Homo sapiens: one gene and its partners. The protein of the gene in region 4 interacts with the protein of the main gene of each other region in a pairwise test. Each region holds a gene or a part of one and is shown on either strand. Other genes may lie near its edges. The genes, in order: PPIA, SETDB1, PRKCA and PROS1.

Region 1 (8,492 bases), on a different chromosome or scaffold from region 4:
AGGCATGCTGGCACACATCTGTATTCTCAGCTACTCAGGAGGCCAAGGCAGGAGAATCGCTTGAACCCAGGAGGCAGAGGTTGCAGTGAGCCCAGATTGTGCCACTGCACTCCAACCTGGCAACAGAGCAAAACTCCATCTCAAAAAAGTAGCACCTAATTCAACCACCCAGCTAAGGGCCAAGTTTCTATCATAGTATCTGACATTCTGTATCACATTGGCTATATTTGTCGTTTATGTATGCTCTTCTTCTAGTATCTTAGGGATGAAAAAGTCTGTGGAAGCAAAGGTTGAAGAAAAGTAGTGTTTGTTCCGTTCCCCCCAGGGCAACTTTTCATTTAGTCAGGTGGTTAGTGTGCCATGTTGTACCCTTACCACTCAGTCTTGGCAGTGCAGATGAAAAACTGGGAACCATTTGTGTTGGGTCCAGCATTTGCCATGGACAAGATGCCAGGACCCGTATGCTTTAGGATGAAGTTCTCATCTTCAAATTTCTCCCCATAGATGGACTTGCCACCAGTGCCATTATGGCGTGTGAAGTCACCACCCTGTCAACATATAGGAAAAATGTCACTTCTGACAACATAACCATGAAGTGTGCCAAATCTGCAAGGTTCAAACTTTAAACCCAAGTTCAAACTGAATAGAAGGGTTAAATAGAACCGAAATGGTAGAGTAACAGTTCAGATATGTGTATCCTGAAATATTCTGGCTCAATCCCAAATGAAGGGAGCAACCCAAATAAAATAAAATTCAGTAAATTTCGTACCTGACACATAAACCCTGGAATAATTCTGTGAAAGCAGGAACCCTTATAACCAAATCCTTTCTCTCCAGTGCTCAGAGCACGAAAATTTTCTGTTTAAAAAAAAATTAAACACATATATACATACATAAAAATATATATATACACACACACACACAAACTGTCACAATTGGAACATCTTTGTTAAACTTAGAAAATGGACCAACCTGCTGTCTTTGGGACCTTGTCTGCAAACAGCTGTAAGAGAAAATTACAGTTAATTAACATCTGCTTATTTTGTTGCTTAGTACCCATGTCTTTAGGGGCTTCTGAGTCATAAATTCATTTTCTCACTAGAATACTTCTTCAGTAATTACTTTAATTCCCAAGAACTGCTCCTGACAGCCATAAGGCCCTGCAGGCAGTTGGGTTAAGAAACATGAAACCCAAAGACATGCCAAAAATCCAATACTAGTCATAACTTAAATAGTGAGACTTCTAGAAAGTGTCTCAAACTTTTAGTACATCACACCTACTTCTGAAAAGATATATGGCTTCTTAAATGTCTATCACCACCCCCCAACTTGAGCTAGAACTTACAAGGCAAAATTCTAAGGAACAGCAAGCACTGCTGCACGATCAGGGGTAAACAGCTGTTCTTTTAGTCACTTGTAATGAAAATGCTACTACCTCCAATCTGTTAACATAGCTTTATGGATTAGATGAGCAGTCACTTCTTGGTATCCAGGCCCCTTACCTAGTAGTGGGGTAAAAAATAAAGATTGGTTTCTAGTATATCTGGTTTTGAACCTTTCTTGAATGTATAATACGTTATGGCTAGAGAGGTAGCTTAAATACCATAAACATTTACAAGCCCTTTCATAAAAACAGCTTGTTTAAAAGTAGCATTTTATAAGCTATTTCACAGATGTGACTGAATTAACTACTAGTATCCGTGTGCACTTCTCTTATAGCAATGTACTTTTTTTTTTTTGAGACAAGAGTCTCACTGTCACCAGGCTGGAGTGCAGTGGCACGATCTCGGCTCACTGCAGCCTCCGCCTCCGGGGTTCAAGCGATTCTCCTGCCTCAGCCTCTAGAGTAGCTGAGATTACAGGCAAGCGCCACCACGCCCAGCTAATTTTTGTATTTTTAATAGAGGTGGGGTTTCACCATGTTGGCCAGGACGGTCTCAATCTCCTGACTTCGTGATCCGCCCGCCTGGCCAACGTACTTATTTTTTAGTTTTTAGGTATTTGTACCTAGAATGTATGGTCTTTCTAAAACATCAGCTTTTCTCAGAGCTTTATAGTCGGTACGTTTAAGTTCCTATGGCTTCCCTTTCAGACTTTCGCTAAAGCCAAAGCCCTCATTGGCAGTTACCCCTCCATTCTCATCAAGACCTGCAAGTCCTTTCTCATTTCCCTGAAGCTCTTTGGGTAACCTGATGCCCAACATTAGGTCAGGCCAAGTTTCCACGAAAGCCCTTGTCACTTACCAGCTTTGACTACACTCATAGGTGGGGTGGGGTGTGGATTAACATGCAGTGTTTCAGTGCCTATGTGCCAGGCACTATGGACAGGGTAGGCAACAAGGAAATCGCTCTGTCCTCACGAAGACTGCATGAGGATCAATCTATTTTCGGAATAAGATCCCAAACTAGCCATTGGTGGCCTTTTGAGATGTGATTTAAAGGAATAAAACCACTAACATCCTATTTCGCTACTCCCTAAGGTCTATCCATGTTAACTGGAACGGAATCGTACTCAATATTTAACTTTGAAGACACGCGCCAAGTTTAGATACTATGCTATAATTACAACTGATCTTTAAGAACTCATTTAACGCTCTCAAAACTAATTAGGTAATCACTGGTAATCCACCTTGGTCGGAAGAGGCCTGCCTTGTGGCCAGTCGCAACTTGCTTGCTAGGCAGAGGGACAATCGGGAGGGGCTCAAGAGCGCCTCCCCCGCCAGCGCCGTCACTGCAGTGGAAGGCGGTCCTTGGGCACCAGCAAAGGCAAGGCCCATTTTCACATTTCCGCTTGGGGGTGGGGGACACGGAGGGACGTTTGGGGCACATGTATAAATATTCCTACTTTATCCAAATGGAAGATATTTCAAGTGGCAACCCGTCACATCCCAGCAAGTCTCCTTTTATAACATGGCCTCCCGGGATCTACAGGACCGAGCATGGACGGGCTCACACCGCGCCTCGATCCTTGAGAAAAACCCTCAAGCAAACAGCTTCCCAGCTCAGGATGTAAAGCACCCATGCCTGCCAGGGGACAGCTTCCCAGGAAGGCGGTCGCAAGCCCCCGCGAGCGTGCTTCTGGCTCCGGTCTGCGGCGCCCAGGCCAAGCTAGGGCGGAGCCCAACGACTCTCAAGGCGCGGACCTGAGCGCGGCCGCCGAGCACGTGCGTCGGACAGGACAGGGCGCGGCCACATGAGGCGGGCGGGCGGACGCGGGCCCCCTCCCCCAACGGCCTCGCAGCCGCCCCGCCTGCCTTTGTCCGCCGCCGTCCCGGCCTCCTCCCCGCGACTCGCGGACCTCCCAAAATGGCCCCTCGTCAGGAAATGGCGCCGCAGCCCGCCCGCGCTCGCCCCTCAAGCAGGGTCGCCCCGCGCCCGGGCCTTTGGGGCGCTACCACCCACCCCGACCCCGGCCCACTTTCTGGGCCCCATTCCCGCACGCCGCCGCCCGCCCGACCTCAAAGGAGACGCGGCCCAAGGGCTCGCCGTCGACGGCAATGTCGAAGAACACGGTGGGGTTGACCATGGCTAATAGTACACGGTTTTCCTCGGCGGTGGCGTCTGCAAAACGGCACGAGCCTGGCCTCCCGCCCCTTTTATACCACGTTCGGCCCCGCCCGCAACCCGGTCTCGCGCCTCCGTCCCGGCCAATCGGGTCTGCGACTTCGCCAGAGTGACAGTGCATCTGGCCTATAGACGGAAGCCGGCGCTGATGGGGACGACACATGAGGCGCGCGTGCGCGCTAACGCGCGGAGGCAGGTTCCCGCCTGCGGGCTCCGTCGCGGTGGCTGCGGCATGGGACTCGGGGCGGGGCGGCAGTACGGGACGCGGGGCACGGGGGAGGGTCAGTGCGGAACGGGGGTGGGCAGCATGGCGCGCGCACGCGGGAGACGGAAGCGCGGCGGCTCTTCGGCCGTTGTCAAGCGATGAGGCGCGTCTCCCCATTGCACAGAGGGGGCAACTGAGGCGAACGCAGGCCTCAAGGTCGCGCCGCCAGTCAAGGTCGACTGGGGTCCCGCGCCCGGACCCTACGCCTCCGCGAGCGGAAATGGGGATGGCGCGTCCCCGAGACCTAGGAGCAGCCTTGCGTCCGCATTCCGCGCGGGCAAACACCACGTCGCGTCCTACCAGGCAATGTCAGGAAGGAGGTTGCCTTTGAGCATCGCTGTTTTCTCTAACGAGGTGGGACAGGAGCAGTCTCCGGTTTTGAGAGATTATGAAATGCTTTCAAAATGCTCTACTTTCCGAAAATATCTTACACTCTGCTTGAATCTTCTTCAGGAGGAAGCCATTAAAACAGGAGCCTGGCCAGGCTCTTACCTGTGAAGATGCATTATGCACATTTTGCCCTCTTACTCTTTTTGAATCTCTGCTCCTGGTCTTTCCCTGCCCCCGCCCCGCCCAGCTCCTACCGCCCCCGCCTCGGGGCTGAATTGTGCTTTGATTTTTGGGTGAAAGATAAGTCACAATTTAAAAGCGAATTTCTTCAGGCAAAGACATTAATAATACTTTAATTAAAATGCACTTGTAGGCCAGGCGCGGTGGCTCATACCTGGCGCTTTAGGAGGCGCGGAGGCCAAGGCCGGGGAGGATCGCTTCATCTTAGGAGTTCGACACCGGCCACCAGCCTGGGCATCTTAGAGAGACGCCGTCTCTACAAAAAAATAAATAAAAATAAAAATTAGCTGGGCGTCGAGGCGCTCGCTACTCAGGAGGCTGGGCGGGGAGGATTGCTTGAGCCCGGAGGTCGAGGCTGTAGTGGGCGGTGATCGCATCACTGCATTCCAGCCGGGACGACAGAGTGTGACCCTCTCTCAAAAAATAGGCCGGGTGCGGTGGATCACGCCTGTAATTCCAGCACTTTGGGAGGCCGAGGCGGGAGGATCACCTGAGGTCAGGAGTTCAAGACCAGCCTGGACAACATGGTGAAACCCCATCTCTACGAAAAATACAAAATTAGCTGGGCATGGTGGTGCGCACCTGTAGTCCCAGCTACCCCCTCGGGAGGCTGAGGCAGGAGAATCGCTGGAACCCAGGAGGTGGAGGTTGCAGCGAGCAGAGATGGCGCCACTGCACTCCAGCCTGAGAGACAGAGACTCCGTCTCAAATAAATAAACAAAAATATAAAATAAAATGCACTTATGTGACTGGTGTTTTGTTAAGAAAACCTTACAAGGGAATTCATATATCCTGGGCTGTCACTTAAGTTGCAATATTAAGGATATTATTTAATGTTTCTTTTTGTTTTTTTGAGACAAGGTCTCACTCTCACCTAGGCTGGAAGTGCAGTGGTGTGTTATCGGCTCACTGCAACCTCCCCTTCCCGTGCTCGAGCAAGCGTCCCACCTTAGCCTCCCAAGTAGCTGGGACTACAGGCATGCACCCACACCCAGCTCATTTTGTGTGTGTGTGTTTTGTAAAGATGGGGTTTCGCCACATCGCCCAGGCTGGTCTCAAACTCCTGGACTCAAGCGATCCACCCGCCTCAGCCTCCCAAAAGTGCTGGGATTATAGGCGTGAGCTGCTGCACCTGGACGTTGTTTAATGTTTCTAAAACTCAGTTTCTTCATCTGCACAACCAGGATAGGGTTGTGGTGAGACAAAAATGATAATTCATCTGATAGATGAAGTACAGTTTCTGGCCTCTTGCCATTGTTAATAACCATGAGCCAACGTGTTAGGAATTTATTTATTTGAGATAGGGTCTCACTCTGTTGGTTAGTCTGGAGTGCAGTGGTGCAATCCTAGCTCACTGTAACCTCGAACTCTTGGACTGAAGCATTCCTCCCTCCTCAACCTCCCAAATGTCTGGGACTAAAGGCACAAGCCACTGTGCCAGCTAATTTAAATTTTTTTAACAGAAACTGGTTCTGGCTGTGTTATCAGGGCTGGTCTCAAACTCCAGGGCTTAAAGGATTCTCCCACCTTGGCCTCCCAAAGTTCTAGCATTACAGGTGAACCGCCATGCTCAGCCTGTGTTGGAAATTTAGACTATGTTGTTTTGTTCTCATCACCATCCCATTATCCCCATTTTACAGATGCGTAAAGTAAAGCTCTGGCTTCTTGTTCAGAGTAATCGCTTATGAGTGTTAGCAAAGCCAAACTGGAAACTGCTTTTTTCCCCCCCACTCCACATCACTTCTTGCTTTGTGATCTTAAGAAAGCCACTTGTCCTCATCTGACACTGAAAAAAAATGCCCAAGGCCTTCAGGCATAAATTCTTACCATTTCTCTCTCCATCCTAAAACGTAGAGCAGTTAGGAACTCCTCCAAAGAAGTAAATGAATGAGGCCGGGTGAGGTGGCTCATGCCTGTAATCCTAGCACTTTGGGAGGCAGAGGCGGGTGGATAATTTGAGGTCAGGAGTTCAAGACCAGCTTGGACAACATAGTGAAACCCTATCTCTACTAAAAATACAAAAATTAACTGGGCAGGGCTGGGCATGGTGGCTCACACTGTAATTGCAGCACTTCGGGAGGCCGAGGTAAGTGGGTCACTTGAGGCCAGGAGTTCAAGACTAGCCTGGCCAACACAGGGAAAACCCATCTCTACTAAAAAGTACAAAAATTAGGGCTGGGCACAGTGGCTCACGCCTGTAATCCCAGCACTTTGGGAGACTGAGGTGAGTGGATCATGAGGTCAGGAGTTCAAGACCAGCCTGACAAATATGGTGAAACCCCGTCTCTACTAAAAATACAAAAGTTAGCCGGGCATGGTGGTGCGCATCTGTAATCCCAGCTACTCAGGAAGCTGAGGCAGGAGAATCACTTAAGCTTGGGAGACGGAGGTTGCAGTGAGCTGAGATCACACCACTGCACTCCAGTCTGGGGGATGGGGTGAGATTCCATCTCAAAAAAAAAAAAGTAAATGAATGCATGAATGAATAATAAATAGGCTGGGCGTGGTGGCTCACGCCTGTAATGCCAGTGCTTTGGGAGGCCAAGGCAGGAGGATCGGTTGAGCCCAGGAGTTCAACACCAGCCTGGGCAACAGAGGGAAACCCTGCTTCTACAAAAAAATATGTATTTTCTTTTATTTTTTATTTTTATTTGTTTGAGACAGAGTTTCGCTCTTGACGGAGTGCAATGGCTTGATCTCGGCTCACTGCAACCTCCGCCTCCTGGGTTCAAGCAATTCTCCTGCCTCAGCCTTACAAGTAGCTGGGATTACAGGCATGCGCCATCACTCCCGGCTAATTTTGTATTTTTAGTAGAGATGGGGTTTCTCGTGTTGGTCAGGCTGGTCTTAAGCTCCCAACCTCAGGTGATCCACCCACTTCGGCCTCCCAAAGTGCTGGGATTACAGGTGTGAGCCACCATGCCCGGCCTATTTTATTTTTATTTATTTATTTATTTATTTATTTATTTATTTTTTGAGACAGAGTGAGTTTTACTCTTGAAGCCCAGGCTGGAGGTCAATGAATGGCGTGATCTTGGCTCACTGCAACCTCCACGTCCTGGCTTCAAGCAATTCTCCTGCCTCAGCCTCCCAAGTAGCTGGGATTACAGGCATGCACCACCATGCCCAGCTAATTTTATATTTTTAGTAGAGATGGGATTCATCATGTTGGTCAGGCTGGTCTCGAACTCCTGACCTCAGGTGATCCGCCTGCCTCAGCCTCCCAAAGTGCTGGGATTACAGGCATGAACCACTGTGCCCGGTCAAAACATTTTTAAAAATAAAAATTAGCCAAGCACGGTGGTGCATACCTATAGTCCCAGCTACTCGGGAGGCTGAGATGGGAGGATCACTTGAGCCCAGGAGGTTGAGGCTGCAGTGAGCCATGATGGTGCCACTACACTCCAGCCTGGGTAACAGAGCAAGACCCTGTCTCAAAAATAAAAATAAAAATAAAAATAAATACATCCGGCTGGGTACAGTGGCTCATACCTGTAATCCCAGAACTTTGGGAGGCCGAGGCAGGTGGATCACTTGAGGTCAGGAGTTCAAGACCAGCCTGGCCAACATGGCGAAACCCCGTCTCTACTAAAAATACAAATATTAGCCTGGTATGGTGGTGGGCTCCTGTAGTCCCAGCTGCTCAGGAGGCTAAGGCAGGGGAATCGCTTGAACCTGGGAGGTGGAGGTTGTAGTGAGCCAAGATCGAGCCACTGCACTCCAGCGTGGGTGACAGACTGAGACTTCGTCTCAAAACAAATAAATGAATACATCCTTGTGACTTGTCCTCCCTCTCGCTACTATTTGAAGTCCTGCCTTTTTGTCACCGTCAGCATTGTCACAGCAAAGTCCTAGTTCTTGTCATTTCATCTACACAGGCATGGGGTATGTACACTCAAGAATACAAATGTTCATGTTTTGTTTGTTAAGTGGGGAGCTGATATTCTGGGGGTTCCTTTTCTGACATTATCTGTTGAGTGGGACTGTCTAACTGTGGAAAATATCAGCAGACACAGAACCTCAGGAATGTGGAGCTGTCCATGCCTTATTTGGATGAATCAGACCAAAAGCAAATCCAGCTGAACTCAACAGTG
Region 2 (7,711 bases), on a different chromosome or scaffold from region 4:
GGCTCACAGCAACCTCCGCCTCCCGGGTTCAAGCAATTCTTGTGCCGCTGCCTCCCCAGTAGCTGGGATTACAGGCACCCACCACCATACCCAGCTAATTTTTGTATTTTTAGTAGAGATGGGATTTCGCCATACTGGCCAGGCTGGTCTCGAACTCCTGACCTCAGGCGATCCACCCGCCTCGGCCTCCCAAAGTGCTGAGATTACAGGTGTGAGCCACTGTGAGCAACCTACAAATTTTTTTTTTTTTAAATCAGGCAGGCGTGGTGGCACTTGCCTGTAGTCTCAGCTACTTGGGAGGCTGAAGTCGAAGTGAGCTATGATAGCACTACTGTGCTCCAGCCTGGGTTACAGAGTGAGATACTGTCTAAAAAAATATATATCAAATAAAGTTGAGGTTTCTATATCCTAAGAACTAGTGACTCTCTTACAGTATATACACTAAAAAGACTCCTGCACATGTGCATCAGGAGACATGTACAAGAATATTTGCAGTAGTGTTATCTGTAATCTCAAAAAATGTAAATCAATGTCCACAATCAGGAAAACTGATAAACTGTGGCATATTCATACAATGGAATACCATGCTGCAAAAAGCAAATAAGCTAATCATCATGCATCAACACAATGTTGAAGAAGTCAAAGCCAAGGGAGACGTCAGAACTAAATGTAACTCTGAATGCATTCGCCTCACTAGCTAAACTATTCCAAAAAATAGAAATAAAAAAGTCAATACTTGGAAGCCAAGCTAAAAAATTAAAAGTTAAAATAAAAAAACTGAACAGAGGCCTACAGGGTGGCTCACGCCTGTAATCCCAGCACTTTGGGAGGCCGAGACGGGCAGATTACGAGGTCAGGAGATCGAGACCATCCTGGCTAACATGGTGAAACCCTGTCTCTACTAAAAAAATAGAAAAAAATTAGCCAGGCATGGTGGCGGGCACCTGTAGTCCCAGCTACTCGGGAGGCTGAGGCAGGAGAATGGTGTGAAACCGGGAAGTGGAGCTTGCAGTGAGCCGAGATTGCGCCATTGCACTCCAGCCTGGGCGACAGAGCGAGACTCCGTCTCAAAAAAAAGAAAAGAATAACTAGGATATGGAACTCTCAGGAAAATAAATTAAAACTCAGAGTTGCTAGATTATCTAAAAGTCAATATTCAACAAAAAGATAAGAGACATGCAAAGAAACATGAAAGTGTGACCTACACTCAAGACAAAAAACCCTGTCAATAAAACTGACTCTCAGTGATCCCAGATACTGGATTTATAAATATGCTCAAAGAACGATAGGAAATTAAGTTAAAAGGTTAAATGAAAATATACTAATACTTAATCAACAAGAGAATCTCAAGAGAAACTGAAACTATGAAATAAGGAACCAAATAGAAATTCCAGAGTTGAAAATGCAAAAACTGAAATGAAATACATATTAGAGGGGCTAAGTGGCAGAGTCACAACAGGAGTCAATGAACTAGAATATATAGATACCCATATAGAGAAATTATCCAATCCAAAGCACAGAGAGAAAATTGAAGAAAAATGAACAAAGCTTCAGAGACTTGTGAAAAGATGAATGTCAAGCATTCCACCATATATGTAATGGAAATCCCAGAAAGCAGGGAGAGACAAAAGGGAACAGAAAAAAAAAACCATGAAGAAATAACAGATGAAATACTTCCAAATTTGGTGAAAAACTTGAATCTACATACCCAAGAAGTTAAATGGACCTCAAGTAGGATTAAGAAAGAACTTGGATACATCCCAGTCAAACTAACACCAGAAGACAAAAAGAAAACCTTAAAACCAGCAAGACAAAACTGACTCATATACATGATACAAAAATAATTTCCTCTGACTTTCCATCAAAAATAATAGAGGCCAGAGGGCACAGGGATGGCGTATTTGAAGTACTGAAAGAAAACTCTGTCAATCAAGAATTCTATATCCCAGGTAGGGCCGGGCACAGTGGCTCACGCCTGTAATCCCAGTACTTTGGGAGGCCAAGGCGTGTGGATCACCTGAGGCCAGGAGTTTGAGACCAGCCTGAACTACATGACGAAACCCTGTCTCTACTAAAAAGACAAAATTAGCCGGGCGTGGTGGTGCACACCTGTAGTCCCAACTACTTGGGAGGCTGAGGCAGGAGAATTGCTTGAACCTGGAAGGTGGAGGATGCAGTGAGCTGAGATCTCACCACTGCACTCCAGCCTGGGCAACAAGAATAAAGCTCTGTCACAAAAAAAAAAAAAAATTCTATATCCTGGGTAAACGAAGATTGAGGGAATCCACTGTCAGCAGAACTGTACTGCAAGAAATATTAAAGGAAACCGTCTGGCTGGAAAAACATGACACTGGATGATAACTCAGATCCACAGGAAGGAATGAAGAGCAACAGAAGTGATAAATATCTGGGTAAATACATATTTTTCTTTTCTTCCCTTACCTTCTTTAAACATGAGACTGCTTAAAGCAGTAATTATAACACTAGATTATTGGCTTTAAACATGTAGCTATAATATATTTGACAATAGTATCACACAGGAAGAGAGTGAAAGTAGAAGTATGCTGGTGCAAAGTGGCTGTGTATATATATATATTTTTTGAGATGGAGTCTCGCTCTGTCGCCCAGGCTGGAGTGCAGCGGTGCGATCTTGGCTCACTGCAAGCTCCGCCTCCCAGGTTCACGCCATTCTCCTGCCTCAGCCTCCCAAGTAGCTGGGACTACAGGTGCCCGCCACTACGCCCAGCTAATTTTTTTGTATTTTTAGTAGAGACGGGGTTTCACCGTGTTAGCCGGGATGGTTTCGATCTCCTGACCTCGTGATCTGCCCGTCTCGGCCTCCCAAAGTGCTGGGATTACAGGCGTCAGCCACCGCGCCCAGCCAAAATGGCTGTATTTTTACCAGAATTAAGTCAGTATTAATTTGTAATAGATTATGATTAGGTACAGATGCAACCCCTTTTATGAAAGCTAAAAAAAAGAAAAATCAGGGGCCGGGTGTGGTGGCTCACTCCTGTAATCCTAGCACTTTGGGAAGCCGAAGCAGGTGGATCACCTGAGGTTGGGAGCTTGAGATCAATCTGACCAACATGGAGAAACCCTGTCTCTACTAAAAATACAAAATTAGCCAGGCATGGTGGTGCATGCCTGTAATCCCAGCTACTTAGGAGGCTGAGGCAGGAGAATCGCTTGAACCCAAGAGGCGGAGGTTGCAGTGAGCAGAGATCCTGCCATTGCACTCCAGCCTAGACAACAAGAGCGAAAACTCCATCTCAAAAAAAAAAAAAAAAAAAAGAAAAAGAAAAAGAAAAAGAAAAAGAAAAAGAAAAATCAGAAGAATGACAGTGGTTTTCTGAAATGTTTGTTTGACTTTAAGAAGGCAACAAAGAAGAAATAGGGCTAGGCACAGTGGCTCACGCCTGTAATTCTAGCACTTTGAGAGGCTTAGGTGGACAGATCACCTAAGGTCAGAAGTTTAAGACAAGACTGGCCAACACAGAGAAATCCTGTCTCTACTAAAAGTACAAAAATTAGCTGGGTGTGATGGCGCGTGCCTGTGGTCCCAGCTACTCAGGAAGCTGAGACAGGAGAATTGCTTGAACCCAGGAGGCAAAGGTTGCAGTGAGCAGAAGTTGCAGTGAGATCATGCCACTGCACTTCAGCCAGGGCAATGGAGCAAGACTGTCTCAAAAAAAAAAAAAAAAAGACAAAATAGGCCAGGCATGGTAGCTAAGGCCTATAATCCCAGCACCTTGGGAGGCCAAGGCAGGAGGATTGCCTGAGCTCAGGAGTTCGAGACCAGCCTGGGCAACATAGTGAGACCTTATCTCTACTACAAAAAAAAAAGTTAGCTGGGCGTGGCGGCATGTACTTTTAGTTCCAGCTACTCAGGAGGCTGACGTGGGAGGATCACTTGAGCCCAGGAGGTTGAGGCTGCAGTGAACTATGATCATGCTATCACACTCCAGCCTGGGGAACAGAGTGAGACCTTGTCAATCAATCAATTCATTCATTCATTCATTCATTCAAAAAGACTAAAATTATACAAAGTATATTCTCTGAACACAATAAAATTAATTAAAAATTAACAACAGAAAGATATCAAAAAAACCCCAAATATTTAGAAATCAAACAACCACAAGGAAAATTAAAAATGATGCCAAGTTTAATGAAGCTGAAAACACAACATAAAAAAAGTATGATATCCTGAGAGTGACACTGTATGGAAAAAAATTTATGAGATGCAGCAAAGCAATGCTTACGGGGAAATAAATAGCTTTAGAGCTTATATTAGAAAGGAAGAAAGGTCTAAAATCAATCCTGTAAGCTTCCACTTTGAGAGGCTAGAAAAAGAAGAACAAATCAAACCCAGTAAGTAAAAGGAAGAAAATAAACATCACACTGGAAATATATTTAATGTGATATCCTGGATTAGATCATGGAACAGAAAAAGTCCAGAAGCTGAATAAAGCCTGAAGTTTATATAAAAGTAATATACCAGTGTTTGCTTCTTAGTTTTGACATATGTACTAGATGAGGGATATATAGGAACTCTATTACTTTTTCAATTTTTCTATAAATCTAAAATTATTCCAAAATAAAAGATTTTAAAAATCCACAAAGAAAAGTCCAAGCCTAAATGGCCTCAGCACTGAATTTATCAAACTTTTTAGGAAGAAATATCATTCCATACAAACTCAGAGGAGGGAACACTTCTCAACTCATTTACAAGGCCTATATTACCCTGCTACCAAAGCCAAACAAGGACACCACAACAGAACTATAAACCAATAGCCCTCATGAAACAGATGTAAAAATTTTTTTCTTTCTTTTTTTTTAAAAAAAAAAAAATTAGAGAAGGGGTTTCACCATGTTGCCCAGGCTAGTCTTGAACTCCTGGGCTCAAGCAATCTGCCCAACTCGGCCTCCCAAGGTGCTGGGATTTCAGGCATGAGTCACAGCATCCAGCCAAGATCTTTTTTTTTTAAATCAGCAAATCCAATCCAGCAACATATAAAAAGAATTATACATCAAGACCAAGGCTGGTTTACTCCAGGAATGCAAGGTTGGTTTAACATCTAAAAAAACAACTACTGTAATACATTCTTAATATGATAAAAGACAAAAGGAACATAGGAGAATGATACAGAAAAAGCTGACAAAATCCAAAATCCAATTAGGCTATGATAAAATCTCTCAAACTAGGATTAGAAGGGGATTCCTTTAATTTAATAAATGACATCTATAGAAAACCTACTGCTAACATAATTAATGGTTAAACACCAAATGCTTTCATATCAACATCAGGAAGAAGAAAAGGATGTCTGTTTTTTTTTTTTTTTTTTTTGGGTGAGACAGAGTCTCACTCTGTCGCCCAGGCTGGAGTGCAGTAGTGTGGTTTCTTTTTTTTTTTTTTTGGTTTATCTTTATTTTTTTTATTTTTTATTTTTTAATTTTTTTTTATTATACTTTAAGTTTTAGGGTACATGTGCACATTGTGCAGGTTAGTTACATATGTATACATGTAGTAGTGTGGTTTCTGTTCACTGCAAGCTCCACCTCCTGGGTTCACGCCATTCTCCTGCCTCAGCCTCCCAAGTAGCTGGGACTACAGGCGTCCGCCGCCACGCCCAGCTAATTTTTTGTATTTTTAGTAGAGATGGGGTTTCACCGTGTTAGCCAGGATGGTCTGGATCTCCTGACCTCATGATCCGCCCTCCTTGGCCTCCCAAAGTGCTGGGATTACAGGCGTGAGCCACCACGCCTGGCCAGGATGTCTGTTCTGGAAACCCTTTTTTTTTTTTTTTTTTTTGAAGACAAGAGTCTTGCTTTGTCACCCAGGCTGGAGTGCAGTGGCACAATCACAGCTCACTGCAGCCTCAACTTCCTATGCTTAAGAGATCCTTCCACCTCAGCCTCCCAAGTAGCTGGGATTACTGGGGTGCACCACCATGCCTGGCTAATTTTTTTATTTTTAGTAGAGATGAGGTCTTGCTACGTTGGCCAGGCTGGTCTCAAATTCCTGGGATCAGGGGATCCTCCCACCTCAACCTCCCAAAGTGCTGGGATTACAGGTATGAGCCACTGTATCTGGCCTGCTCTTAAAACTTATTCAACACTGTACTGAAGGTTTTAGTGAGTACAATAAGAAAAGAAAAAGAAAGATATCCAGGGTAGAAAGGAAGAAGTAAAACAGACTTTACTTGCATGAATTAGTTTTAGAAAAACCTAAGGAATTGGCTGGGTGCAGCAGCTCATGCCTGTAATCCCAGCACTTTGGGAGGCCAAGGCAAGTGGATCACAAGGTCAGGAGTTCAAGACCAGCCTGGCCAAGATGATGAAACCCTGTCTCTACTAAAAATACAAAAATTAGCTGGGTGTGGTGGTGGGGCAGGGGGTTTGCCTGTAATCCCAGCTAGTTGGGAGGTCGAAGCAGAGAATTGCTTGAACCCAGGAGGCAGAGGTTGCAGTGAGCTGAGATTGCGCCACTGCACTCCAGCCTGGGCAACAGAGCGAGACTCCATCTCAAAAAAAAAAAAAAAAAAAAAAAAAAAGAAAATCCTAAGGAATCAACAAAAAGCTTCTAGAACTATGTGAGTTTAATGCGGTTGCGGGCTACAAGATCAATACACAAAAACCAACTGTATTTTTTATATTCTAATAACAGAACATACACTCACTATAAGTCCTGGCAATTCCACTCTTTGATGGAATACCCCAAAATAGGGGTTACACAGAATGAGGAAAGCAAAGTAATACAATCAGGGTGTAGCACATAGGGAACATCTATGATACTAACAATGTTGCATTTTTTTCTTTAATAGCCAACTCAGGCAGTTAGAAATATGGAGTTAGTGACAATGGTTTCTCCTCTCTTCTATTATCTTCTATTTGCTCATCTTCCAGTGTTTCAACTTCAGTCCTGAGACTCTCCTATCCAAAGCTCATCCCTTACCTGAATCAATACTGAGGACATCATCATCTTCATCAGGAATCTCAATTATTTCTGTAGGCCGGGAAGATTCGTCCTCAGAGCTACTGTCCCGGTATTGTAGTCCCAGCTTGGAGTAGAAGTCCTTCACCAAAGACTCACAATTAGTCACTGCCCTAATATTGGAACACATGCAGAAAAGGTCAAAGCCAGTAGAGGAATTAAGAGATATAGAATCCATTACGATGTATATATATTTAAGTATAGACAGTCCTCAATTTAAATGGGCCACATTCCAAAGTGTCTCTGTTTAGAATTTAGAATGCTTTTTCTATAGAAAAATGTTTTAAATAGTGGTTTAGTTTCCAGACTAGTTCCTCAAAAATCCAAAGTAAGCCCAAAGTACAGTACTTTCACCCTTACCTCATTATTTACCTTGCTGTTATCTGAAAATGTATCCTGGCTGGCAGTGGTGGCTCACACCTGCAATCCCAGCAATTTGGGAGGCTGAGGCAGGTAGATCACTTGAGGTCAGGAATTTGACCTCCCCAGCCTGGCCGACATGGTAAAACTCCATCTCTACTAAAAATACAAAAATTAGCCGGGTGTGGTGGCACACGCTTGTCGTCCCAGCTACTCCGGAGGCTGAGACAGGAGAGCTGCTTGAACTCGGGAGGCGGAGGCTGCAGTGAGCCGAGATCACGTCACTGTACTCCAGCCTGGGTGAGACAGAGCAAGTCTCTGTCTAAAAAAAAAATAAAATAAAATAAAAATAAAATA
Region 3 (7,711 bases), on a different chromosome or scaffold from region 4:
CCAGCTACTCAGGAGGCTGAGGTGGGAGGAACGGTTGAGCTCAGGTGTTGAGGCTGCAGTGAGTCGTGCTCCCACCACTGCACACCAGCCTGGGTGACAGAGTGAGACCCTGTCTCAAAAAAGAAAAAAAAATTAATAAGCCCAGAAAGGAAAGCTGTTTGTCATAAAGACCTTACTTTGAATTTATGACATGCTTTCCACCTCAACAGGTACTTAGGAGCAGGTTTTATTTGATGAAAAGTAGGTGGGAAAAGGGTAATGAAAGTAGCTTCGTCGCTGGGCGTGGTGGCTCATGCCTGTAATCCCAGCTACTCGGGAGGCTGAGGCAGGAGAATCACTTGAACCCAGGAGGCAGAGGTTACAGTGAGCCGAGGTCACGCCACTGCACTCTAGTCTGGGCGACAGAGCAAGACTCCATCTCAAAAAAAAAAACGAAAGTAGGTTCTCAAGCACACCTCCTAGAAGATAAAGTGTGAAAAAAGAGCTGAGAAAGCACAGCCCGTGAGACTCAACTGCCTTATAAAAACACTAGCAGCACGTGCTGGCCTCTCGCCTCGGCTGGGTTCTGTGCAAAACCCCATACATTTCACCTTCCTGACAGCCTTGGGCAGGAGGTGTGATTGTTCTCCCAGTGTTACAGATGAGCAAACTTGGTGGACCCCACTTCACAGTTAATCCAGAGCTATTCTCTGTTAGAGACCCAAGGATGCCTGGTTAGTTTGAAATGTGTGCTAGCTCAGAGTTAATTCATATTGGCCCTGTGGTGCTAGCAGCAGGTCCAAGGGCAGTAATTGGCAGCATCTTGAAAATCATTCTTAGGATCCTTAGTGAAACTCCCAGCTCTTCCTGCTTCAGAGTCACCCTGGGCTCCCGGGGACTTCAACACGCCACTACCCTTGTGGGTGGCTGACAAGGTGAAGAGAACACTCCTTCCCCACTTTTGGGGTCAGGCTACCAAGCCGTGCTGCCTAAGCGGCTGTGTGTCTCAGCGACCCCAGTGCAACAGTTCTGCCTGGAGTGGACCCTGGAGGAGAGGAACAGCCGAGACAGCAGGCCTCTCCCTGCCTCCCCAGGGCGCCATGCAAACATCCTCCAGCCTGAGACCACCCTGCAAATAAGCTCCAGTCAGTCACCCAGCCTGCCCGCTGGCCAGCTCTGTCTAGGTGTGCTAAATCCTAGCTGGGCCAGGTGCAAATCTCCCAGCCTTGCCGCCACACCTACCTCATATCGCTTGAAGCTTAATTTAGGGGCTGGGGTTGCTGGAGCAGCCCAGTAGGAAGGCAAGGATAACACAGTTTTTACTTCACTACAAATATTGCGGCAAAAAAACAGATGTGGGGCAGTAACTCACCCCGTCGCTTGGTCCAGGGGTAACTGCCTGCAGCCCCAGCCGACATCCTGGCCTTTCAACACGGAGCTGTGACTGACGGCCCTGCGTGCGTGGCTTCCGTGCTCTCAGCTCCGCTTGCTCGGTGAGGTGGACGTGAGGGGACAGGGGCTGTCCCCTTGTTGCTGCCTCATTGCCAGCCGTGCAATTCCCACCCAGGGCTTCTGTTCGGGGTGTTTCAGGGTTTACAGTTGGGTAACTCGTTGTTGTCTGCTGTGCCTGGCTTTTCAATCCAATAGGCCTGCAAGTCCTCCGAGATTCCTCCTCCTAACCAGCCCGGAGTTCCCCAGGGCCGTGCCCCTCCCCAGAGAGGGCCCTCGGAGAGCTGCTCCCGCATTGTCATGTTGACTGACCTTTCCTTCTTTTTGTCTTTTCTCCACAGTGTGGCAAAGGAGCAGAGAACTTTGACAAGTTCTTCACACGAGGACAGCCCGTCTTAACACCACCTGATCAGCTGGTTATTGCTAACATAGACCAGTCTGATTTTGAAGGGTTCTCGTATGTCAACCCCCAGTTTGTGCACCCCATCTTACAGAGTGCAGTATGAAACTCACCAGCGAGAACAAACACCTCCCCAGCCCCCAGCCCTCCCCGCAGTGGGAAGTGAATCCTTAACCCTAAAATTTTAAGGCCACGGCCTTGTGTCTGATTCCATATGGAGGCCTGAAAATTGTAGGGTTATTAGTCCAAATGTGATCAACTGTTCAGGGTCTCTCTCTTACAACCAAGAACATTATCTTAGTGGAAGATGGTACGTCATGCTCAGTGTCCAGTTTAATTCTGTAGAAGTTACGTCTGGCTCTAGGTTAACCCTTCCTAGAAAGCAAGCAGACTGTTGCCCCATTTTGGGTACAATTTGATATACTTTCCATACCCTCCATCTGTGGATTTTTCAGCATTGGAATCCCCCAACCAGAGATGTTAAAGTGAGCCTGTCCCAGGAAACATCTCCACCCAAGACGTCTTTGGAATCCAAGAACAGGAAGCCAAGAGAGTGAGCAGGGAGGGATTGGGGGTGGGGGAGGCCTCAAAATACCGACTGCGTCCATTCTCTGCCTCCATGGAAACAGCCCCTAGAATCTGAAAGGCCGGGATAAACCTAATCACTGTTCCCAAACATTGACAAATCCTAACCCAACCATGGTCCAGCAGTTACCAGTTTAAACAAAAAAACCTCAGATGAGTGTTGGGTGAATCTGTCATCTGGTACCCTCCTTGGTTGATAACTGTCTTGATACTTTTCATTCTTTGTAAGAGGCCAAATCGTCTAAGGACGTTGCTGAACAAGCGTGTGAAATCATTTCAGATCAAGGATAAGCCAGTGTGTACATATGTTCATTTTAATCTCTGGGAGATTATTTTTCCATCCAGGGTGCCATCAGTAATCATGCCACTACTCACCAGTGTTGTTCACCAACACCCACCCCCACACACACCAACATTTTGCTGCCTACCTTGTTATCCTTCTCAAGAAGCTGAAGTGTACGCCCTCTCCCCTTTTGTGCTTATTTATTTAATAGGCTGCAGTGTCGCTTATGAAAGTACGATGTACAGTAACTTAATGGAAGTGCTGACTCTAGCATCAGCCTCTACCGATTGATTTTCCTCCCTTCTCTAGCCCTGGATGTCCACTTAGGGATAAAAAGAATATGGTTTTGGTTCCCATTTCTAGTTCACGTTGAATGACAGGCCTGGAGCTGTAGAATCAGGAAACCCGGATGCCTAACAGCTCAAAGATGTTTTGTTAATAGAAGGATTTTAATACGTTTTGCAAATGCATCATGCAATGAATTTTGCATGTTTATAATAAACCTTAATAACAAGTGAATCTATATTATTGATATAATCGTATCAAGTATAAAGAGAGTATTATAATAATTTTATAAGACACAATTGTGCTCTATTTGTGCAGGTTCTTGTTTCTAATCCTCTTTTCTAATTAAGTTTTAGCTGAATCCCTTGCTTCTGTGCTTTCCCTCCCTGCACATGGGCACTGTATCAGATAGATTACTTTTTAAATGTAGATAAAATTTCAAAAATGAATGGCTAGTTTACGTGATAGATTAGGCTCTTACTACATATGTGTGTGTATATATATGTATTTGATTCTACCTGCAAACAAATTTTTATTGGTGAGGACTATTTTTGAGCTGACACTCCCTCTTAGTTTCTTCATGTCACCTTTCGTCCTGGTTCCTCCGCCACTCTTCCTCTTGGGGACAACAGGAAGTGTCTGATTCCAGTCTGCCTAGTACGTTGGTACACACGTGGCATTGCCGCAGCACCTGGGCTGACCTTTGTGTGTGCGTGTGTGTGTGTTTCCTTCTTCCCTTCAGCCTGTGACTGTTGCTGACTCCAGGGGTGGGAGGGATGGGGAGACTCCCCTCTTGCTGTGTGTACTGGACACGCAGGAAGCATGCTGTCTTGCTGCCTCTGCAACGACCTGTCGTTTGCTCCAGCATGCACAAACTTCGTGAGACCAACACAGCCGTGCCCTGCAGGCACCAGCACGTGCTTTTCAGAGGCTGCGGACTTTCTTCCAGCCATTGTGGCATTGGCCTTTCCAGTCTTGGGAGGAGCGCGCTGCTTTGGTGAGACACCCCCATGCAAGGTCCTCAGAGTAGCCGGGTTCTACCACAAACAGAAACAGAATGAAAGTAGCTGTCAGTCCTTGTAGAGAGCCGCTCTGTTTCCTCCCAGAAGCATCTCCCAGCTAAGCTCGCATTATTTTTCTCCTCTGGCTGTTTGCCTGAAGTTCACAGAACACACAACCATGAAAGGCTTTTTGAGGTGAGAGGCCCAGGTGGTCCTGGCAACCCTGAGTAGAAGGAGAGACGGGGTAGGGAACGGGCCCGGCCAGAAAAGAACCATTTCTTCTGCCATCTTTTATGCACCATAGACATCGAGACTCCAGGGGGTCCTGGCTCCCCTGTCCCTGCAGCCCTGCAGGTCAGTGCATGATCTGGGTTCGTGTCCTGACCAGGTGCTCCTCCTTTGATCCGAGGGGAAAGGGACTGGTTTATAGAAAGAGCCTAGGAGACAAAAGGGCCAGTCCCCCTGCCCAGAATGGAGCAGCAGCAGGACAGACCCCCACGAGGCCCCCCAGAGAGGAGGAAGATCCCACGGAGGAACACATGAGGTTAGGGACCCTTGTTCAGCACCCCAAACAGCCTGCCTGTTTAAAGCAGGCAGCAGGCTTAGGCCTTCCCTGCAACCCCAACACCCACAAGTTTGTTTCTCTAGGAAACACATTCACTGTCTCAGCTGGCTGTTACTCTCTCAGACCATATGGCAAAGTTTTCCAAGAAAATGCCCCGACAGGGGTGCCCAGCACACTGCCTGAGGGACAACAGACATCAGAACAAACCCCCAGAGAGAAACAGTCAAAATCAGGGCCCGGTGCAGTGTTGTCATGTGGAACCTGCTTTATCCATTGCTGAGTGTTGAATGTGGGTAATGGTTAGGGCTTTCCAGATCTCAGCAGCCAAAGACAGTTATTGTTGGAAGACTGTCATGTAGATAACCATGAGCAATGGCTCGCCTCAGAATCAGTTCATAAAATTCTATGGTACTGGCCCCTTCGTGGGTATTGTGTGAAATGAGATGGTGGCGAGGGGTGCGCTGTGGAACTGCCGCAGCCACGCAGGAGGTCCCTGGGGGATGCTTTGGGAAGTCCTTGCCCCTGAGCACTGCCTGATTGCCAGGGCCTGTGGAGGTCTAGGCCGCCTGGCAGAATCTAGCACCGTCCGAATCCCCGCAGGACCCATGGAGCTATGACCACACCAGGCCATTCAAATGGCTCTGCATTATCTTCCCTTGGAAGGTGGCCACTCCTCGGTGGCAGGGCCTTTCCCTGAGGCTGCAGGCCGTGGGCTGGCAGCCCGTCTCTTGGCATTTCAATTGAAGGTCACCAGGTGCTGGGTTTGAAAGGAAGTCACTGGAGTGCTGCCAGGGGCCGCCCTCCAAGGTTAATGAGAGGCCCACATCCAGGCAAGAACTAATTCAAAAGGCAGATCAGAAACCACAGGAGTCAAAATTATTGCTCCGGCAGTGCTTCCCTTCCTTTCATCCACTGGCCTCGTGTGGTCCATGCAGGGCCACTGTCTGCCCTTTCTGATGCCACGTATTAGGCTTTCTTACTCAGAATTTTGATAGAAAACCATGGGGCCAAGAGCTCTGGAAGCCTGGCCGGAAAGACCAAGGTTCATGCAGCCCAACAAATGATTGTTGAGCACCTCTCGGAGCCAAAGTCCTTAGGCGAGTGTGGTGACTTCCTGGAAGGAGGATGCAGACTTCCAGAGAGCCCCCCCAACGGACGTGCTGAGAAGGGAGAGGGAGGCGGGGGCTGTAGTCAGGAAGGAGCCAGAGAAGAACAGGGTTTGGGTGCATCCAGAAATATGCCTGCAGTAGGAGGGAGAGGAAGGGGTGCCACCGTCAACGGCTTCCCATCGGAGGTGGTTGGTGCAGATGGAAGTTTCTGTCTGCTGGCCCTCAAGAGAGTGTTTTGCCAGGGACACAGTCTGTTCCTCCTCAGAAAACACCCCCCAAATGCTAACAACATCCCCACCAGCTGCTAGAAGCCCCTTTCCCCTCCCCACCTTGAAGTAGCTCATAGTTCTCTGGGCAGAGCCAGACCATCCAGTGTACCCCAGAGGCCAGTAGGTTCCTGCCCATTTTCCTCTCTGGCTTCCTGCCAAGAATTATGGCAGCTGAGGATGAATGGAGAAGTAAAAACAACTAACACCGCACAACTAACAACTAACACCGCAGTTCCCACCTGGGTTCCACTTAGCAGGAGACATTTCGGAGGGTTTTTTTTGTTTTTGTTCCTGTTTTTTTTTTTTTTGCTGGAATTTGTTTTCTCAGTACTGAAAAGAGAAAAAGTGACAATCTTGTATTTTTAAAAGCCTCGGAAAGGTGATACCATCTGACAGTCATTTTCTCACGTTGGTCTTCTAAAGTCACCTATTTCTTGTGTGTGCACATCACACCATTTCCTGTTTCTTTATAACCCGACAAGGGTAGGAGTGCCTGTTTCCCCTGCTGGGCACACCAGACAATCGTAATCACAAAACAGACACTGAGCCAGGGGCCCAAAGGGTGTGATCATGAGAGTTACCGGGACAGCAGTAGGCATGACAGTCACCAGGAAGGACAAGGGTGCTCTGTTGTTAGTGGCCACACACCAATTTGACAAGGAGTGTTGCGAAATTTTTATTTATTTATTTATTTATTTTGAGATGGAGTTTCACTCTTGTTGCCCAGGCTGGAGTGCGGTGGTACAATCTCGGCTCACTGCAACCTCCACCTCCCAGGTTCAAGCGATTCTCCTGCCTCAGCCTCCCAAGTACCTGGGACTACAGGTGCGTGCCACCACACCCAGCTAAATTTTGTGTTTTTAGTAGAGATGGGGTTTCACCATGTTGGCCAGGATGGTCTTGAACCCCTGACCTCATGATCTGCCTGCCTCGGCCTCCCAAAGTGCTGGGATTACAGGCATGAGCCACCACGCCCAGCCAAAATATTTTTTTAAAGTCATTTTCCTTAAGCTGCTTGGGCTACATGTGAAATACACTGGACGGTCAACATTCCTGTCTCCTCCCATTTGGGCTGATGCAGCAGATCCAGGGAATGTTACCTGTTTCTGCTGCTAGAAGATCCAGGAAATTGGGAAGGTTACCTGACGCACACATGGATGAAGGCCATCATCTAGAAATGGGGTCAACCACAATTGTGTTAATTCCGTAGTGTCAGGGATTCTTCGGGAAGGTCAACAGTATGAAGGATTCTGACCCCTGTGCCTCCCATTTATGTGATCAGGTGACAGTTAATAACCGTGGAGGTCACACTCAGCCATCCAACAGCCTTACAGTGACCCTACACAAAAGCCCCCAAATTCCAAAGACTTTTTCTTAACCTAAAGGAAGAAATTATTTGTTAATTCCAGTAGAGCAACTGAATATACTGGGCTATTTGTACTTTTTTATAGAGAACTTTAATAATAATTCTTTAAAAATGAGTTTTTAGAACAAAGCAACTGACGATTTCCTAAGATTCCAATGCCCTGGAGCTTGTAGGAGGACTTAGCCTGGGTCAGCTGGAGCACCCCCGACCTGATCTCCCACTGCCAGATTTTCCCATGCTCCTAGGGTATGGAGTCCACGTGGGAATGACTGCAAGTTCAGGTGGAACTTGGCCGACTGATGCTCTGCGAGTTTTTAATAGACACTGGGGACAACTGCTTAAGGTTTAGAAACTTCCAAACCACAGGAAAGACATTTTTAGTGTCCCCCATCCAGAGGCAGCCCTGGAATAGGATTCCCA
Region 4 (7,711 bases):
TTTATTGTTGTTTACCCTTACTTGAAACCTTTTTTAAAAACCCAAACAACTCTCAAAATTGGAAAACTCCAATTTAATTTTATGTATTTTTTTCTTATTGCCTCAATCACTTTTGAATTTTAAAGAAAAAATAATTTGTGTGCAATTAACAGAATAGTGAACATATTGATTTTTCTTACTTTATATTAAGAACTTATGGGCCGGGCGCGGTGGCTCACGCCTGTAATCCCAGCACTTTGGGAGGCCAAGGCGGGTGGATCATGAGGTCAGGAGATCGAGACCATCCTGGCTAACAAGGTGAAACCCCGTCTCTACTAAAAATACAAAAAATTAGCCGGGCGCAGTGGCGGGCGCCTGTAGTCCCAGCTACTCGGGAGGCTGAGGCAGGAGAATGGCGTGAACCCGGGAAGCGGAGCTTGCAGTGAGCCGAGATTGCGCCACTGCAGTCCGCAGTCTGGCCTGGGCGACAGAGCGAGACTCCGTCTCAAAAAAAAAAAAAAAAAAAGAACTTATTTACACTATTGATTCCATGTGCGTATTATCAGACAATTGCAAAATAAGGCCACTTAAATTTTTCCTAAGATAGAATGGCTCACTTAATTGTTAATTTTCTAGCAGCCTGGAATTGAAAGATATATAACTGGATGTTTAAGCTTAACAGAATAGTATTTTTTTTAACTTTAAAATATGGTATGCTTTTAATTTTTGATCGTGCTGCCACCCTAAATGCCTTTTTATCACATTTATCATAATTTGACATTCCAAATGAGTTGTAACAAATTAATAATTACATTAAAATGATTACTTTACAGAAGTATTTTATTGGAATAATAACATAAGTTTTAGATCCCAGTATTTCAAATGACATGTAGTAATACTTGGTTATTTGGTAATTTTTCTTTTTAATTGTAGGTGTCTGTGGAAGAATTAGAACATAGTATTAGCATTAAAATAGCTAAAGAAGCTGTGATGGATATAAATAAACCTGGACCCCTTTTTAAGCCGGAAAATGGATTGCTGGAAACCAAAGTATACTTTGCAGGATTCCCTCGGAAAGTGGAAAGTGAACTCATTAAACCGGTAATGATCCAAGCTTGTATCATTCATCATGGATGAGTTCCTTTTGTCTGTAATAGATTTGAATATGTGTGTTTCTGAGAATCAATAGAAGTTGTTTTGTTAAGCATACTAAGTGTGACAACTTGAAATGATCATGGAAAAATAACATTAGTAACCCTTGAAATTATATTAATGAAATAAAAAAATGACGTAGTGGTTTTGTGCCCATTTAAATCCCCAGCATAAATCATGAAGTGGATTTCTAAAATTCTCAAGTTAACACTTGAGAATGTTAACACTAATGTTAACATTAGTAATGTAATGTTCAGTGTTAACATCATGATAATCCATACTCAGTTGTTAAACATATAAATTCATATATTTAAGTCCAAAATTACACCATTTTGTAAAAGCCAGTCAAAGGACTTTCTCAAGTCTATTTTTAGGACTTAAATGCAAGAGCTAAAGAATAGCACATAAGGTGAAATTTATTGTTAAATATTTACTATCTTACATCCGTCTTTCATTCTCTGGAAATTCGTAGTTACTTTAACTTTTAAAAGATTTCCATTATATGATATTAAGCTTGAATTAATTAACCCATGTTGACATGAGTATACCTGTTGTTTGAAACTGAGAAATTAATACACTTTAAAAGTAAAATAAATTATTCAAAAAGTATCAATCATTTATGAAACGGTTATTACATGTCTTGAGCCTGGCAGGATACTTGATGGAGGCTAAAGAATGCAAACACTTTTGTGTCTGAAGAGACTTAGAGTCTGATTGGCAAGACAAACCCATATTATAAATGCCACTAAAGAAAAACAAGGCCAGGCGTGGTGGTTCACACCTGTAATCCCAGCAATTTGGGAGGCCGAGGCGGGTGGATCACCTGAGGTCAGGAGTTCAAGACCAGCCTGGCCAATGTAGCAAAACCCCATCTCTACTAAAAGTACAAAAATTAGCCAGGCGTGGTGGTGGGCACCTGTAATCCCAGCTACTCAGGAGGCTGAGGCAGGAGAATCGCTTGAACCAGGGAGGCAGAGGTTGCAGTGAGCCAAGATCCTGCCACTGCACTCCAGCAAGACTCCATCTCAATCAAACAAACAAAGAAGATAAACAAGACAACTTAGAGCCCAGGGCCACAGCTAGAAGCAAATATAGAACTTGAAAGCAGAAAAGTTACCACTGGATGATGTAGGAGAGGCAGGTGGGGCTTGAAGTGTTAAAAACCATTAAGATCCCACTGAGGGCTTGTGATAGTATGAGCTTGCTTGTACTGAAAAAGACTGTCCATCTGAAGAATACTTTGAAAAGAAAAACTTAAATAAAATTCAAAATATTTTCAACTATTATCAAAGAAAGGATTTTTTTTCTCTTAATGAAAACCTATACTCATAATCGAGCCACTGTTTAAGTTTAAAATGCACTCCTTGACTTGTATTTTAATTTGTTAGATTAACCCTCGTCTAGATGGATGTATACGAAGCTGGAATTTGATGAAGCAAGGAGCTTCTGGAATAAAGGAAATTATTCAAGAAAAACAAAATAAGCATTGCCTGGTTACTGTGGAGAAGGGCTCCTACTATCCTGGTTCTGGAATTGCTCAATTTCACATAGATTATAGTAAGTGATTTTCCATTTATCTCTATTTTCTCATTAATGAGTAAATTTATTCATTAACAAACAGTAATAATTTATTTGTGAAACATTATTGAGTATCTACTGTGTGCCCACTCTAGTCTTATGCTTATTCATACTATTATATACCTTTTACAAAAATTTTTCAGTGTATTGGGAAAAATATAAAGGCATTTGAATGTGCTTGTGTTGTTATTTCAGGTTTATCAGTACATAGCCTGATTCCTTATGGGTAAATTCAATTGACCTATTTTAAAGTTCACTGATTTCTCACTTGTATGGAGTCTATCAATGAATGCATCAGAAAGATTCATCTTCATTTCTAGCATTTCTATTTGATGCTTTCTTAAAATTTCTACCTCCCTGTTGAAATTCCCTATCTGTTCACACTTGTCTAGTTTATGTACTGAGTTTTCAATGTATTCATCATAATTATTTTAAATTCCCTGTCTCGTAGTTCCAACTGTGTCATATCTGAGTCTCGTCATTTTGTTTGCTTTGTCCCTTGACCAAGTGTTGTTTTTCTTGCATCTTTGTGTACCATGTAATTTTTGGTTTAGATTTGGGCATCTTACGTATAACAGTAGAGACTGAGATAAAGAATATTTGTGTCTGGAAATGAGCACATTTCTTTTGCTAGGCTCTTAGTAATGGGATTGAATCAATCTAGTGAAAAGTTGAGCTTCTTAAGTTTTGTTGGTGCCAGGATTACCCTTAATGCACCACAGGTTTCAGATCTTTTATTTTGTTTTGTTTTGTTTTTGAGATGGAGTCTCACTTTGTCACCCAGGCTGGGGTGCAGTGATGCAATCTTGGCTCACTGCAACCTCTGCCACCTGGATTCAAGTGATTCTTCTGCCTCAGCCTCCTGAGTAGCTAGAACTACAGGCGCCCGCCACCACGCCCGGCTAATTTTTGTATTTTTGTGTTTTTGGCCAGGCTGGTTTTGAACTGCTGATCTCATGATCCACCCCCTTGGCCTCCCAAAGTGCTGGGATTACAGGTGTGAGCCACCGCACCCAGCCTCAGATTTTCAAAATACTACCTTCTGCTTAGAATAAGGGAATGGTTTGGTAGCTAGTTTTTCTTTTTCTTTTCTTTCTTTTTTTCTTTTTTTTTGAGACTGAGTCTCACTCTGTCACCCAGGCTGGAGCTCAGTGCCACAATCTCGGCTCACCGCAACCTCCACCTTGCAGGTTCAAGTGATTCTCATGCCTCAGCCTCCTGAGTAGCTGGAATTACAAGGGTGCGCCACCATGCCCTGCTAATTTTTGTATTTTTGACGAGGTTTTGCCATGTTGGCCAGGCTGGTTTCAAACTCCTGACTTCAGGTGATCTGCTTGCCTTAGCCTCTCTAAGTGCTGGGATTACAGGCTTGAGCCACCGTGCCTGGCCTAGAGAGTTTTTCATCATAGCAGCTCAGTTTTATGTATTCCCTCCATAATACGCCTCAAGAAAATGTCTCTCCCACTTGTGTCTCTCAAGTGTCTTGCCCACCCCTAGCAGAGTGCTCTTGTTACCTGACATTTGCTAACATGGCAGAGAAGATGCGGAGGTTGGGGAAGCATTCTATGTTGTTGTCGTACAAATTCAGTCTTAGGCAGGTGTTGTATCCCTGGGTCTCAGGAGTGTGGAATTTTCACTGTTCCTCTTCCCTGACTCTCATCAGTAGGGGAGATGTCTAGTGATCAGGACTCAATATGTTTTCTTGCTCCTTCTGCATGATAGATAGCTTTTTTTGTTTGTTCTTCCTAATCTGTAGTTGCAATGAGTCTTCATATGTGTCCTAATGACAAGGTTTGCTGCCTTTCTCCTGGCTTGAAAACTTGTGTTGTGTAGAGGAGACCGAGAAGGATCTAGATGGGGCTTTGTGGCTTCCCTGTAGCTGGTGCTGCTTTCAGGACCATATTAAGAGAGAGGCTTTTTCGGATCTCCTTCCCTGCACTCTGTTTTCTCTTGAGTGCATGGTAAGGTCTGTGGAGAAGAGCCTGTGAATGAGCATGAATTGTCTTTGTGTCTGTAATTTCTAGGGCTTCTAAACTCTTACGTCAGCCCCTACATGGAGTTCAGCAATTTGTTTAAATCTTTACCTAAATTATTTTTACCAAATTGCATGGCATTTCCTGTCTGCCCTGGATTAGAAAGTGTTCTCATTCTGGCTTTCCTTGGAAACACCTGTCTTTCTTTAGGTTTCTGGTTAGTTTGTTGCTCTGCGACCTCAGCTCTTTGATAGTTTCAAGAAAAGTCATGATTATGCAGATAATTTGGCTTTTGTTGTTGTAAGGGTGGGAGTGGTGCCCTTTCCACTTTTCTACAGCCTAAGTGGAGCAGGGAATCTTGCCATACTGACCCTAGGTTTTTAACCTTAGAAGTAATACTTCTGTGAACATCCTAAATCATACATCCTTCTACCTTTATGTGATTAATTCTATGGAAGAAAATTTTAGAATTAGGTTATCTCTATCAAAGGTTATGCAAATATATAATTATTAGAGGTTCAATTACATTCTTTTCCAAAAATCTTTTATCAATTAATATTTCTACCAACAGAATGAGAAAGTGTATGCTTTAGTTTTTTTCCAATCTGATAGTTCAAAAATTAAATTTTGTAGGTTTGAATATTAATATTATTTCTCTAATTTCTACTGAACTTGAATATCCTCCCATATGTTTATTAGCTATTTATAAATTCTAATTATTTTATTGAATTCTTTGTCTTTTTCTTTTTTAGTAGTTCATTATTTGAGCTACTAACACTTTGCATTATAAATTGTTAACACTAATGTGATATCTCTGCTTTAAGAAAAAAATTACATTTTAATTGTGTTTATTTGTAACCTAAAAAGGGCGAGGTAAGGTGGCTCACACTTATAATCCCAGCACTTTAGGAGGCTGAGGCGGGCAGATCCCAAAGAGCTAGAGCCCAAGAGTTCAAGACCAGCCTTGGCAACATGGTGAAACCCTATCTTCACAAAAAATACAAAAATTAGCCAAGCCTGATGGCATGCACCTGTAGTCCCAGCTACTCAGGAGGCTGAGGTGTGAGGATGGCTTGAGCCCAATATGTTGACACAGCAGAGAGCCAGGATCTTATCACTGCACTCCAGCCTGGATGACAGAGTGTGAGCATGTCTCACAAAAAAAAAAAAAAAAAAAGTGCTTACTACATTAAAATACATTTTTAAATTTTTATGTAATTAGGAGGTACAAGTGCAGATTTCTTACATGCATATATTGTGATATATTGTGTAGTGGTGAAATCTGGGCTTTTGGTGTACACATCACCCAAATAGTGAACATGATACCCAATTGGTAATTTTTCAACCCCTACCCTCCTCCCACCCTCCCATCTTTCGTAGTCTATATTTACTACATTTGTTTGTTTGTTTTTGAGACAGGGTCTCTCTCTGTCATCCAGGCTGGAGTGCAGTGGTGCAATCATGGCTCACTGTAACCTAGACCTTCTGGGCTCAAGCAATCCTCCTGCCTCAGCCTCCCAAGTAGCTAGGACTACAGCCACATGCCACCATGCCTTGCTAATTTTTATGTTTTGCAGAGACAGGGTCTTCCCGTGTTGCCCAGGTCAGTTTTCAAATTCCTTAACTCAAGTGATACTCCTGCCTCAGCCTCCCAGTGCTGGTGTTACAGGCATGAGCCACTGTGCCCAGCCTTTTTTACTGTATTTTTAAGGACAAATTTTACAAAAATGATTTCCCTTTTTCTAACACAAATTGATACAATGCCTAGTTCTGTTCTGCCTATGAAAGATTTTTTTAAAGTTATAAATGGGGTGAGGATTAAATTAGGATAAAACTAAATCCATGGTGATTTGGCCAAAGGAAAAAAATCCTGAAAAGGTAATGAAAATAAGAGTTATATTGTATCTAAAAAAATTACTTTAATAAGTAATTAATCATTTCATGGATAATTTGTAAGTGATCTACTTTGTAATTAATATTTAATGTTACATTTTAACTTCTATACATTCGTGTGTTCATTTTAGTTTGAGTTTAATATTCTGTGTTAAATTTACTTATTTCAAGATAAATGTTTAGGTGATAGAAATTCCAATTACCCTGATTTGAGCATTACACATTGTATGCATTTATCAAATGACATATGTACCCCAAAATATGTGCAATTATGATATATCAATTAAAAATTACTTATTTCACAATGATTACATATAAACATTCTTTTTTTTTTGGAGACAGAGTCTCACTCTTTTTCCCAGGCTGGAGTGCAGTGGCGTGATCTCAGCTCACTGCAACCTCTGCCTCCTGAGTTCAAGCGATTCTCCTGAATCAAGCCTCCCGAGTTGTAGCTGGGACTACAGGTATACACCACCATGCTCGGCTAATTTTTTGTATTTTTTTTTCAGTAGAGATGTTTCACCATGTTGCCCAGGCTGGTCTCGAACTCCTGAGCTCAGGCAATTCCAAAGTGCTAGGATTACAGGCATGTGCCACCGTACCCGGTCTATATATTTTTTTTCTTCTGGATGGGAGTTACAGGATTATAATGAAAAACAGTGACATTATATGTGGCTAAGTGGAAGAACATCTTGTCAAAGGAAAATGATTTTCCTTATTCACATTTACCCTTTCAAGGGCTCCGTGTGGTATTTGGGCTTTGCTGTATGTTACATCATATTAAATGAGGAAGACTTCATTCAGATTATGAACTAATATTTTTAGTAATCCAACTATTCTGGAAACATATTAATTCAACAAATATCTATTGAGTGAGTGCTGGGGAAAACAAAGCAATGATAGAGATATATACCTCCTAGAGCTTGCATGTTAGTGGGATAGACAATTAACCTAGTAATTAAGAAAGAGAATGTGAAGGATTATGACAAGAGATTCACAAAACAAGGGTTCCTATTCTGATTTCAAAACTAACTGCTGATGTCAGTGTATTTCTCTAGTATCGAACTATCCAACTCTCCTATGTATATAGATCATATTTATCCTTTGGAGTGATGATGGCAACTGTACCCAGATTT

Evidence for each region.
Region 1: the proteins of PROS1 (region 4) and PPIA interact in binary tests that used the Homo sapiens proteins (3 or more experiments, as listed by UniProt).
Region 2: the proteins of PROS1 (region 4) and SETDB1 interact in binary tests that used the Homo sapiens proteins (3 or more experiments, as listed by UniProt).
Region 3: the proteins of PROS1 (region 4) and PRKCA interact in binary tests that used the Homo sapiens proteins (3 or more experiments, as listed by UniProt).

Annotation. Positions count from the first base shown.
Region 1 is NC_000007.14:44,791,758-44,800,249, reverse strand, and holds the start of PPIA (peptidyl-prolyl cis-trans isomerase A), read right to left. Parts: upstream 3,570-8,492; 5' UTR 3,526-3,569; coding exon 3,457-3,525; intron 3,132-3,456; exon of another isoform or gene 2,629-3,131; intron 1,503-2,628; exon of another isoform or gene 1,346-1,502; intron 1,004-1,345; coding exon 973-1,003; intron 859-972; coding exon 770-858; intron 549-769; coding exon 376-548; intron 1-375. UniProt on the Homo sapiens protein: Catalyzes the cis-trans isomerization of proline imidic peptide bonds in oligopeptides.
Region 2 is NC_000001.11:150,929,363-150,937,073, reverse strand, and holds part of SETDB1 (histone-lysine N-methyltransferase SETDB1), read right to left. Parts: intron 7,108-7,711; coding exon 6,956-7,107; intron 1-6,955. UniProt on the Homo sapiens protein: Histone methyltransferase that specifically trimethylates 'Lys-9' of histone H3. H3 'Lys-9' trimethylation represents a specific tag for epigenetic transcriptional repression by recruiting HP1 (CBX1, CBX3 and/or CBX5) proteins to methylated histones.
Region 3 is NC_000017.11:66,802,104-66,809,814, forward strand, and holds part of PRKCA (protein kinase C alpha type), read left to right. Parts: intron 1-1,769; coding exon 1,770-1,934; 3' UTR 1,935-7,711. UniProt on the Homo sapiens protein: Calcium-activated, phospholipid- and diacylglycerol (DAG)-dependent serine/threonine-protein kinase that is involved in positive and negative regulation of cell proliferation, apoptosis, differentiation, migration and adhesion, tumorigenesis, cardiac hypertrophy, angiogenesis, platelet function and inflammation, by directly phosphorylating targets such as RAF1, BCL2, CSPG4, TNNT2/CTNT, or activating signaling cascade involving MAPK1/3 (ERK1/2) and RAP1GAP.
Region 4 is NC_000003.12:93,879,705-93,887,415, reverse strand, and holds part of PROS1 (vitamin K-dependent protein S isoform 2 preproprotein), read left to right. Parts: intron 1-912; coding exon 913-1,080; intron 1,081-2,519; coding exon 2,520-2,688; intron 2,689-7,711. UniProt on the Homo sapiens protein: Anticoagulant plasma protein; it is a cofactor to activated protein C in the degradation of coagulation factors Va and VIIIa. It helps to prevent coagulation and stimulating fibrinolysis.